Linked DNA regions of Homo sapiens: all the other regions are linked to region 2. Evidence: fine-mapped expression QTL. A gene starts in region 2. Each other region holds a variant in brackets. All regions are shown on one strand. Distances are between the middles of the regions.

Region 1 (2,686 bases), 78 kb before region 2:
GCACTTTTCCCATGGTCTTAGCAACCTGCAAACCAGGAGATTCCCTCCAGTGCCTGGCTTAGCAGGTCCCACACCCACAGAGCCTTGCTTACTGCTAGCAAACCAGTCTGAGATTGACCTGCGACGCTGCAGCCTGGCCAGGGGTGTCTGCCATTGCTGAGGCTTGACTAGGTAAGCAAAGTGGCCGGTAAGTGCGAACTGGGTGGAGCCCACCGCAGCTCAGCAAGGCCTACCACCTCTTCTCTAGACTCCTCCTCTGTGGGCAGGGCATAGCTGAACAAAAGGCAGCAGACAACTTCTGCATATTTAACCATCCCTGTCTGACAGCTCTGAAGAGAGCAGTTGTTCTCCCAGCATGGCGTTTGAGCTCTGAGAACTGACAGACTGCCTCCTCAAGTGGGTCCCTGACCCCTGTGTAGCCTGACTGGGAGATACCTCCCAGTAGGGGCTGACAGACACCTCATAAAGGTGGGTGTGTCTCTAGGATGAAGCTTCCAGAGGAAGGATCAGGCAGCAATATTTGCTGTTTTACAGTATTTGCTGTTCTGCAGCTTCTGCTGGTGATACCCAGGCAAACAGGGTCTGGAGTGGACCTCCAGCAAACTCCAACTAACCTGCAGCTGAGGGATCTGACAATTAGAAGGAAAACTAACAAACAGAAAGGAATAGCATCAAAATCAACAAAAAGGACAGCCACACCAAAACCCCATCTGTAGGTCGACAACATCAAAGACCAAAGGTAGATTAAAACCACAAAGATGGGGAGAAACCAGAGCAGAAAAGCTGAAAATTCTAAAAACCAGAGCACCTCTTATCCTCCAAAGGATCGCAGCTCCCCACCAGCAATGGAACAAAGCTGGATGGAGAATGAATTTGACAAGTTGACAGAAGTAGGCTTCAGAAGGTCAGTAACAACAAATTTCTCCAAGTTAAAGGAGCATGTTCTAACCCATTGCAAGGAAGCTAAAAACCTTGATAAAAGGTTAGACGAATGGCTAACTAGAACACACAGTGTAGAGAAGAACTTAAATGACCTGATGGAGCTGAAAAACATGCCACGAGAACTTTGTGATGCATGCACAAGCTTCAATAGCCAATTTGATCATGTGGGAGAAAGGATAGCAGTGATTGAAGATGAAATTAATGCAACAAAGTGAGAAGACAAGATTAGAGAAAAAAGAGTAAAAAGAAACAAACAAAGCCTCTGAGAAATATGGGATTATGTAAAAAGACCAAATCTATGTTTGGTTGGTGTACCTGAAAGTGACGGGGAGAATGGAACCAAGTTGGAAAACACTCCTCAGGATATTATC[C/T]GGGAGAACTTCCCCAACCTAGCAAGGTAGGCCAACATTCAAATTTAGGAAATACAGAGAGCACTACAAAGATACGCTCTCGCTCTCGCTCTCCCTCTCCCTCTCCCTCTCCCTCTCCCTCTCCCTCTCCCCCCTCTCCCTCTCCCTCTCTTTCCACGGTCTCCCTCTCATGCCGAGCCGAAGCTGGACGGTGCTGCTGCCGTCTCGGCTCACTGCAACCTCCCTGCCTGATTCTCCGGCCTCAGCCTGCAGAGTGCCTGCGATTGCAGGCACGCGCCGCCACGCCTGACTGGTTTTCGTATTTTTTTGGTGGAGACGGGGTTTCGCTGTGTTGGCCAGGCTGGTCTCCAGCTCCTAACTGCGAATGATCCGCCAGCCTCGGCCTCCCGAGGTGCCGGGATTGCAGACAGAGTCTCGTTAACTCAGTGCTCAATGGTGCCCAGGCTGGAGTGCAGTGGCGTGATCTCGGCTACAACCTCCACCTCCCAGCCACCTGCCTTGGCCCCCCAAAGTGCCAAGATTGCAGCCTCTGCCCGGCCGCTACCCCGTCTGGGAAGTGAGGAGCGTCTCTGCCTGGCCGCCCATCGTCTGGGATGTGAGGAGCCCCTCGGCCTGGCTGCCCAGTCTGGAAAGTGAGGAGCATCTCTGCCTGGCCGCCATCCCACCTAGGAAGTGAGGAGCGCCTCTTCCCGGCCACCATCCCATCTAGGAAGTGAGGAGCGTCTCTGCCTGGCCACCCATCGTCTGGGATGTGAGGAGCCCCTCGGCCTGGCTGCCCAGTCTGGAAAGTGAGGAGCATCTCTGCCTGGCCGCCATCCCATCTAGGAAGTGAGGAGCGTCTCTGCCCGGCCGCCCATCGTCTGAGATGTGGGGAGCGCCTCTGCCCCACCGCCCGGTCTGGGAGGTGAGGAGCGTCTCTGCCCGGCCGCCCCGTCTGAGAAGTGAGGAGACCCTCCACCTGGCAACCGCCCCGTCTGAGAAGTGAGGAGCCCCTCCGCCTGGCAGCCACCCCGTCCGGAAGGGAGGTGGGGGTCAGCCCCCACCCGGCCAGCCACCCCGTCTGGGAGGTGAGGGGTGCCTCTGCCCGGCCGCCCCTACTGGGAAGTGAGGAGCCCCTCTGCCCGGCCAGCCGCCCAGTCTGGGAGGGAGGTGGGGGAGTCAGCCCCCCACCCGGCGAGCCTCCCCGTCCGGGAGGGAGGTGGGGGGTCAGCCCCCGACCCGGCCAGCCGCCCCATCCGGGAGGGAGGTGGGGGGGTCAGCCCCCCCACCCGCCAGCCGCCCCGTCCGGGAGGTGAGGGGCGCCTCTGCCCGGCCACCCCTACTGGGAAGTGAGGAGCCCCTCTGCCCGGCCAGCCGCCCAGTCTGGGAGGGAG
Region 2 (2,686 bases):
TTTTTTTAGTCTGTTGCTAAGAAACCCTATTGCCTGAAGGCAATTTACTAATAGGAACTTACATGAAGCAGGAGAAACCGGTGATCCTGAAATTCTTTCCAATTAGGCCATTCTATTTTAATCAGTCCATTCTGGTGCCACTTGATAAAATATCTCCTTTCAATCTTTATGTAGCTCTACTGTGATGTTGTTGCACTTAACAGCAAAACAATCATTTATGAAATCTTAATGTAAGGCTTCTGCAAACCAGTATACCAGAAATGGAGAACCATAGTTCTGGACTCTGATTTTTCTATTAATAGTTGTCTTCATGAAAATACCGTGTATTCCAAACAATACCTTGCAAGGTAATTTTATATTTTAAGAGATCTGGTGCAGAGCATCGGAAAAAGAGTTGATAAAGCTATTATAGATAAAAAGCTGTGAACTGAAATTACGATTTGGGAATGAGACGAGAAGAGGGCTGAGACTGCTACTGCAAAACAACCCGGGGGGCGTGCGGATCAGAGCGAGATGTGGGCTGACGCAGAAATCAGCTCAAGATACAAATACGCCAAGAAAGGCTCGAAGCCGGCGGGAACCCTGACGCTTCGCATTTCTACCAACTCAGTTTAAGAAACCCCTAACAACGCAGATGTCATCGCTTCGTTAATTGGTGCCGACGATGAGCCACAGCGACCACGCTCAAACCGTTTCGACTGCAGCCAACCTAGATGTGCCATTTCCACCTAGTCTTCTGCCATCGCTATCTCCCCTATAACCTCAAATTCGTCCAAACTAAAATCTCGCTATGTTAGTGATAAGAAGTTCAGTGATGCAGCAGCCTTCTTCAGCGGTGAGCTCTTTCCTCACACATCTTTAAAAGTCCTTCTAATCCGTTGGTTTCTCGGGCACGCGGGCAGAAAACCGTGCTAACGGCCACAGAGGTTCAAGAGGTGCCAACGTGGCTATAACTGGAAAACTGGATCCGAAATCGACCAGTAAACTGGGTAGCTCGGTCTACGCCCCGCCCACCACCCTTGCTAGCCAATAGCCTTCACAACTCTTCTGCCACTCCCGCCCATTCCAGTGCTGTGCCGCTGCTTTTTCTTCCACTCGGATCTCTTGAGCGCCCTTAGCCCGCTGTATACGCGCCCCTCCTCGGCTTCAGTAGGCAAGAGGGCCATCTGCCCTTCTTTCCTGAAGGTAGAGGGGACAACACCAGCTACGACGGGGACTCCAGAAGTCCATCTCCCGAACAGCAGCGGGGCGAAAAGAAAGAAAAAGGGTTTCCGAAGACTCCTACTCACACCCACGCTTTCCCTTAACCCGGAAGTGATTTCCGCCCCTCCTCTCCCTCTTCGGTTGATACTGGAGGAGAAGGACGGCCAGGTCTGGCCCGGCATGCCCTGGGCTTCCGGTGACCTCTGGCCCTTTTCTGTCGTCCGCTCTCTCTGCCTAGCGTGCTCGCTCGCTCATTGCTTTCCTTCCCTCCCTCGGTCTTCCTTCGCACGCTGTTTGGTGATTGTGGCGCTCGCGACAGACAGGGAGGCGGTGGCAGAGGACACTTGTCATGGCCGCCTCTAAACCTGTGGAGGCAGCGGTGGTCGCAGCCGCTGTACCGAGCTCCGGGAGTGGGGTGGGCGGCGGCGGGACTGCGGGCCCGGGCACGGGGGGGCTGCCGCGATGGCAGCTGGCTCTGGCGGTCGGGGCACCCCTGCTGCTGGGCGCGGGTGCCATATACCTGTGGAGTCGGCAGCAACGGCGCCGGGAGGCCAGAGGCCGGGGCGACGCCAGCGGCCTGAAGCGCAACAGCGAACGGAAGACCCCGGAGGGCAGGGCCAGTCCGGCCCCGGGCAGCGGACACCCTGAAGGTCCCGGTGCTCACTTGGACATGGTGAGAAGCAGCCCCAGGCCGTAGAGGAGGAAACTGGCTCGTGCAGCTTTTCCTTGGCGGGTTGTGTCAGTGAGGGGGCTTCCCATCAGACGGAAGCTGCCAAGCGGCAGCACAACACTTGGGTTTAGGGAGACTCATTTCTGGCTGCCAGTGGAGGGCATAGAGTAGCTCGATGACAGGTTACTGGCATTCTTTGACAGTTTGCTTTTGGTTTCAGAAAAATCCTTTGCTTTTCTTCTCAGTGACACAGCATTTATCCCTAGTGTTGTAGATGGGAGTGGGGCATTTGCAAATGTGATGATTGTATTTAATAAGTGAAGGAAGCTAAATTCGATTAACAATTGGTACATCGTGATACGAACTGTTTCTGTGATTTCCAAAGCCTACAACCTAATCGCTAAGAGCCTTTTAATAATGAGCCACTCCCCCTTTTGGAGTGTGTTTTTGCTGGGGGTAAGTGGGCAACTACAGTGACGGTTAGTTGACAAAAGCAAAACAAAAACAAAAACGATTAGATGGCTTTCTACATAGAAAAAGAAAGACTACACAGGTTCTAAAGAGTGAAATGGTGTTCAGTGGCATTTGTTTTACAGCCTCTGAACTGTAAGCAGAACTGTCAAGCTCCCAAGGCTCGTCCTCTCTCAGCAACCCCGAAGCCCCCTTGGCTGCAAGCACTCAGCGCCCGTAACCTCTCCTGCCATGCCCCAGCCCCAAGGTGTCCTTTTGCACTCCGGACCCCTTGGCCTTTGTCAGAAAACGCTCTGCACTGCACTGTCCCCTCTTGCTGCACAAGAGTAGCGGCCACAGCAA
Region 3 (2,686 bases), 36 kb after region 2:
AGCCTCCTGAAGTGCTGGGATTACAGGTGTGAGCCACTGCACCCAGCCTAAATTATTTCTTAATTGCTAATTTGTTAATGTGAATAAAATATTCTTGTACTAGAATAGGATAGGGTGGTAGTTCTTAATCTTTTTTGAGCGAAGCTGTGGATTCTTCTTAGAATAATGCACACAAAAACACTTTGCTTTTAATTCAAGGCTTTCATAGATCCTGGGTTAACTAAAGACCTCTGATAGGGTTTGATGGAATTTTGTTCACGTTAATTGAACTTTGAAAAAATCCATTCTGAACCTTACAATTAAATAAGTGAATTTGAATAAATGAAATTGCAGATTATCCTAGGATTTTGCAGATCTGCTAGCTGTTGGCCTAATGCCAGAACATGAACTCTTGAAAAAAGTTTTTTTTAAAAATAAGCCTATCACGTTGCCATATATTATAATGGGGGATTAAATATAGTCACCCTAGTGGTACCTCTTACTGGCATATAAAGTCTAACTGGCACATATGCCAATAAAATGTACCTTACTAACATGTATGCCAGTTAGACTCTGTATATGCAGGTATATATATATATAGTAGGGACTTAATATTCTTTGTAGGATTGCATATATATGTAGCTAATACTAGTTACTTAAAACAGTTGGTTCTTAGATAGCTGTGGATTTGACCAGAATCAGGCAGAGGCAATAAATCTGAGTATTTATTGAGTAGGTGTGAGGAACTCACATAGACTGCCTGAAGAGTAGAGATGCATGGGGTTGGGGATGTGCTGGTAAGAGATGAAACAGAAAGAGGTGGGCCCACATCAGTCTGTGAAGGTAAGGCCCTTGCATGTCATTAGTGTCCCGGTATTATGTCACTGCTTTCTAAAGGAGTCTCATGTTAACAGTAGAAACATGTAAAATTTAGGAACCAGACGGAATTGTGATTTTAAATAAGCCAATCAATTTCCCTAGTCTGACTGTTCTTATCAGTAAACACAGAATACAAGGGATATAATGTAAGCACATAGTATTTGTAATAGTAGTTGACATTCATTGAGTGCTTTCAATGTGGTAGGTACTCTTGTTTATTTTAAAAGAAGCATTTTACTAGAATCATAGTAGAAACTTAGTGGTCAGACTTCATGTAGCATCACTTACAACCTTCATTGAATATTGTGAAGAAACTTAGTGGTCAGACTTCATGTACCATCACTTACAACCTTCATTGAATATTGTGAAGTGCTTGTTGAATCTGAGACTTAAAAATTTTGTTCTTTTAGAGGAAACATGGAGAAAGCCATTGACATGTTCAACAAAGCTATTAACCTGGCCAAATCGGAAATGGAGATGGCCCATCTGTATTCACTTTGCGATGCCGCCCATGCCCAGACAGAAGTTGCAAAGAAATACGGATTAAAACCACCAACATTATAAAACAGGGGGAAAGCAGACTGACCCTCTTTTTAAAAGTTTACCCCCTCTTCAACTGAACCCTAAAGACACTGTCATGAACTGTGTTGAATGGTGGAAATCAGTATTTCTGTTTGTGGTGTTGTTATTTGTTACATCTGTTTCATGTCTAGGTGTTGTGGGTGTGGCTGTTGAAGGAAGTTTGCAGTCTTGCAGCTTTTATTCCCT[G/C]TGCAACAAAAGATTAGAACATGTTAAAGGGATTTTTAAATAAAGTTGCAAAGAGTACAAATGATAATTGGCCATGCAAATAAAAACTGATTTGTTGATTTTTTTTTTAAGGGGGGTTGGCAGTTGATTATGTTCTGGATGATTCCGTCTATATATGTGTGAATAATGTAAGTATTTTACAGCATGTTGATTTTTAAATTAACGTAGTAAATGCTGTAAAATAGATTTATATTCAGTTAACCGCTTTCAGTTGATTTTTTGAAAGAAACAAAGGTTAAATGGGGGATTAAAGTAAAATTGAGAGACCCTTTAAACCATTGTCAGCATGCACAATGCCTCTGATTCTGCAGTTTTAGAAACTTGGTGGCACTTATTAATCCTCTTGGCCCCTTTCCACTCTAATGGATAGTGTACATTCTTCTTAAAGTCCACAACAGCAGATTTTCTTGCAGTAAATTATGCAGATGCAAAATATTCTAATTGATATATGTGTTGGAAGACTGAGTATTGATGGGGGAGTGGACCAGACAAAGAGGTAAGATGAAACAGTAGTGTGTTTATAATTGTCTGTGACTATTTTCTATAATAATTAGTACTATTTAATGGTGAGCTTTTAAAAATGTAGGATAGAGGGTACAGTGGCACTGTATATACTATTTATAGTCTCAGCTACTAGGGAGGCTGAGGCAAGAGGCTTGAGACCAGGAGCTCGAGGCTGTAATGTGCCATGATGATTGCACCTGCGAATAGCCACTGCACTCCAGCCTGGGCAATATAGCAAGACCCCATCCTTTAAAAAATTTTAGAACTTTTTTAAAATCAAAGTGCAGATTGCTTGTATGTAAAACCCAAATAAAGGTAGAGTAAGTGTGATATATGGGAGTATTAAAATAGCTTAAAATTTCTCGTGAAGGACATGTGGCTAAAGGGTCAAAAAGGATGTAAGACTTGGAGCCAGAGCATAGTATTTCCTGAAATAACAAGTTTAGTGCTTTAACTATGGCTACATGTGCTTAAGGAATTTTGAGCCACTTATTTTTGAAGATGCTGAGGACATGTA
Region 4 (2,686 bases), 460 kb after region 2:
CCCTGGGCTGAAGGGGCACAATCAAAATGTGTTTGTGAGTTGTGGGTGGAGGAGACTGAAACTAGGTGGTGTAAGAAATGAATAAAGAAACTGAGTGTTTCATTTGGAATAAAGAAGAATAGAGTCCTTTCGGTTAAAGGACTACACTGTGGCAAGAAGAGTAGCTTGGCTTGCTTTAGTTCTGGAGGCAGAACCAGGATACACGAACTAAAGTTCCTGGGAGCTGGATTTCAGCTCACAACAAGGAAGCACTTTTGGACACTCACAGGCATATAACAAGTGAGCAGGTGATGATGGAAAATACTAAGTGCCTGATACTATGGGTGATGGATGAGAGACTACTGCACCACCTTCTGAAGCTCTTATTTGATTTTCTCTCTGTGGCTTTGACTTTCTCTTAGGACTTAGAATCCTTGGGAATATGAACCTGAATCATACATCCCCACTTTCCAATCCCTTGTCTAAAGACTTGTCTATGCCCTACAAGGAAAAATATCACTAAGAAAATGTTTCAATGATTTTTACTGAAAATGGGAGAAAAAAGATAACGGAGGCCAATTACTAAATTAGGTTATCTTGTTTTCAATTGTCTTTTTTTAGCCATCAGATAGCTTTACTGCAGCTGGCTGAGTTTAGTGTCTTCAAATGTGGGTGAGTAGGGCAATAAAAGGAAACTTTTTTTTTTTGAAAGACCACATAAAATACCCAACAGGATTTTTTCCCCTAATCTGGCCATGTGAGCACAACCTGGCTGTTCTGCAACTGAGCGCTATTAACATCTATTTATAGCCACTATTTTCATAGATGAATCACATTTACCATAAGTCAGTTAATATTAAAGGGGCCAACCAGCTCTGCTGAGAACCCCATAATCTTAATACATCTCTTTCCATTCTTTCAGGGAACTAAATCTTAGCTTAAAGGTTCTGTGTAAAGATAGGGGGAAATGCAAGTGCAAATGTAAAGATAGCAGACAGTCTGCCCTCTAAACTCAGCAAAGTATGGGGTGTTAAATATATTCAAATTTAAAGCCTTGGATCACTCCCAGCTTTGTTCCTTGGCCATGAGTGTCGTACAGTTAGCACAGACTCACTCCGTGTTATGCAGTCTTCTTGCCATCAAAACAAACAATTTATGTCTAAAATTTCCCACTACACTAAGTTTAAATGACTGCCTTAATAAAATGTTACATGCTTAAAAACAGAACTAATGATGGTTAATGGTGCTGTCAAATTAAAAAATAGTGTAGTGCATACTCAGTTCATTTCATGCATGTGAGGGTGTCTGTGAGAGGGCTGGGGGTGAGGGATAGCAGATCAGGGTATTTATGATCGAAAGTTTACAAAATTCAGTGAAATTAAATGGAGATTTCCAGTAAGTTACGTGGATCTAACATTTCTTCCCCACCCAGCACGAGTGTGCATGCACGCGCGCGCGCGCGC[GCA/A]CACACACACACACACACACACACTTCCTGAGCCTTTTGCAGGCACCAGTGCTGCCCTGAAATTGATATTAATTTATTTGTCTTTGCTATCTCTTATGAGAGTCTCCACCTTAATTCACCTTTACCAACTCCCTTCCTACAGGTTTTCTGTTTTTTTCATTTACTTCAGGCTAAAATTCTTTAAGATAAATAAGATAAATGAACTGAAGCACTTAAAACAGTGCCTGGCATGTGGTAAGAGGTCTATACACAGCTACTTCAGTAGATTCTCAGTACCCTTTTTCTAATTTCTAGCCAGTGGTTTGCAAATGAATCATCTTTACCATGAGGCAGCTCCTATTCAGAGCCAACCAGCTCTGCTGAGGACTGCATGATTCAATCACTCAATAAATCCCTGCTGAGGTCCAACTCTGTAGGACATGGGGATACACACATTAACAACAGGGGCCCTGTGCTAACCAAATATGAATAATAAACCCATTAGCAAGTACCATTATCTCCATTTTACATTTAAAGGCTCACTGACGCCCAAGGCCACAGAGCTAACATGTTGGAGCTGTGATTTAAGACCAGTTCTATTTGATTCCACAATCTCATACTCTTTCTATTAAGACATGTCTCCTGCCACTTCAATATGACAGCAGTGGTTGAGAAAAGCACATGAAAATTTAAAAATACATAGTTTTTGCACATAAACAATATATGAAAACAGAACATCTTTATTGAATAGACTCAAAGGCTAGGGGTTTGTGAATTTATGTTACTCACATTTTTGTATAATTTTGGATACTCAGAATTCAACAAATTGGAGATTGGTCCACATATGAAAATAAGCTAGGCTGGGCATGGTGGCTCATACCTGTAATCCCAGCACTTTGGGAGGCTGAGGCGGGTGGATCACCTGTGGTCAGGAGTTCGAGACCAGCCTGGCCAACATGGTGAAACTCCATCTCTACTAAAAATACAAAAAAATTAGCCACATGATGGCAGGCGCCTGTAATCCCAGCTACTTGGGAGGCTGAGGCAGGAAAATTGCTTGAACTCTGGAGGCAGAGGTTGCAGTGACCCGAGATCACGCCACTGCACTCCAGCCTGAGTAACAAGAGCAAAACTCCGTCTCAAAAAAAGAAAAGAAAGAAAAGAAAATAAGCTAGTTAAAACAAAATTGCGTAGCACAATACTTGACATAGTAGGGCTTCATTTCATAAATGTTTGTTGAATAAATTAATGTTAAACCAGGAT

Which allele goes with the higher level. Alleles are on the strand shown, and positions count from the first base shown. SD is a standard deviation of normalised expression in the study named. Not every link is listed here.
With allele T in place of C in region 1, the expression in subcutaneous fat of the gene that starts at base 1,413 in region 2 is higher (moderate effect, 0.51 SD a copy in TwinsUK).
With allele A in place of GCA in region 4, the expression in monocytes after LPS of the gene that starts at base 1,413 in region 2 is lower (small effect, 0.34 SD a copy in Quach 2016).

What was found.
Region 1: its variant is fine-mapped to the expression of TOMM70 in subcutaneous fat (TwinsUK, PIP 0.95).
Region 3: its variant is fine-mapped to the expression of TOMM70 in thyroid (GTEx, PIP 0.95).
Region 4: its variant is fine-mapped to the expression of TOMM70 in monocytes after LPS (Quach 2016, PIP 0.95).

The regions. Positions count from the first base shown.
Region 1 is chr3:100,477,747-100,480,432 of GRCh38, reverse strand. No RefSeq gene overlaps it. Among named protein-coding and RNA genes, the nearest start is that of TMEM45A, 14 kb to the left of the region's middle. The variant C/T (reference allele first, on the strand shown) is at 1,314.
Region 2 is chr3:100,399,816-100,402,501 of GRCh38, reverse strand. TOMM70 (translocase of outer mitochondrial membrane 70) reads left to right here and starts at 1,413. Exons shown (of 12, transcript NM_014820.5): 1 at 1,413-1,876. The coding sequence starts at 1,553. LNP1 (leukemia NUP98 fusion partner 1) reads right to left here and starts at 963. Exons shown (of 4, transcript NM_001085451.2): 1 at 63-963. RefSeq lists silencers at 945-1,024, 1,635-1,714 and enhancers at 1,085-1,174, 1,185-1,234, 1,285-1,394, 2,076-2,686.
Region 3 is chr3:100,364,300-100,366,985 of GRCh38, reverse strand. It overlaps TOMM70 (translocase of outer mitochondrial membrane 70), which reads left to right. Exons shown (of 12, transcript NM_014820.5): 12 at 1,269-2,686. The coding sequence ends at 1,422. Among named protein-coding and RNA genes, the nearest start is that of NIT2, 31 kb to the right of the region's middle. The variant G/C (reference allele first, on the strand shown) is at 1,627.
Region 4 is chr3:99,936,833-99,939,518 of GRCh38, reverse strand. All of the region lies in intron 1 of CMSS1 (cms1 ribosomal small subunit homolog), which reads right to left. The region is part of intron 1 of FILIP1L (filamin A interacting protein 1 like); the gene reads left to right. The region is part of intron 1 of LOC105374010 (a long non-coding RNA gene); the gene reads right to left. Among named protein-coding and RNA genes, the nearest start is that of MIR3921, 26 kb to the left of the region's middle. The variant GCA/A (reference allele first, on the strand shown) is at 1,443.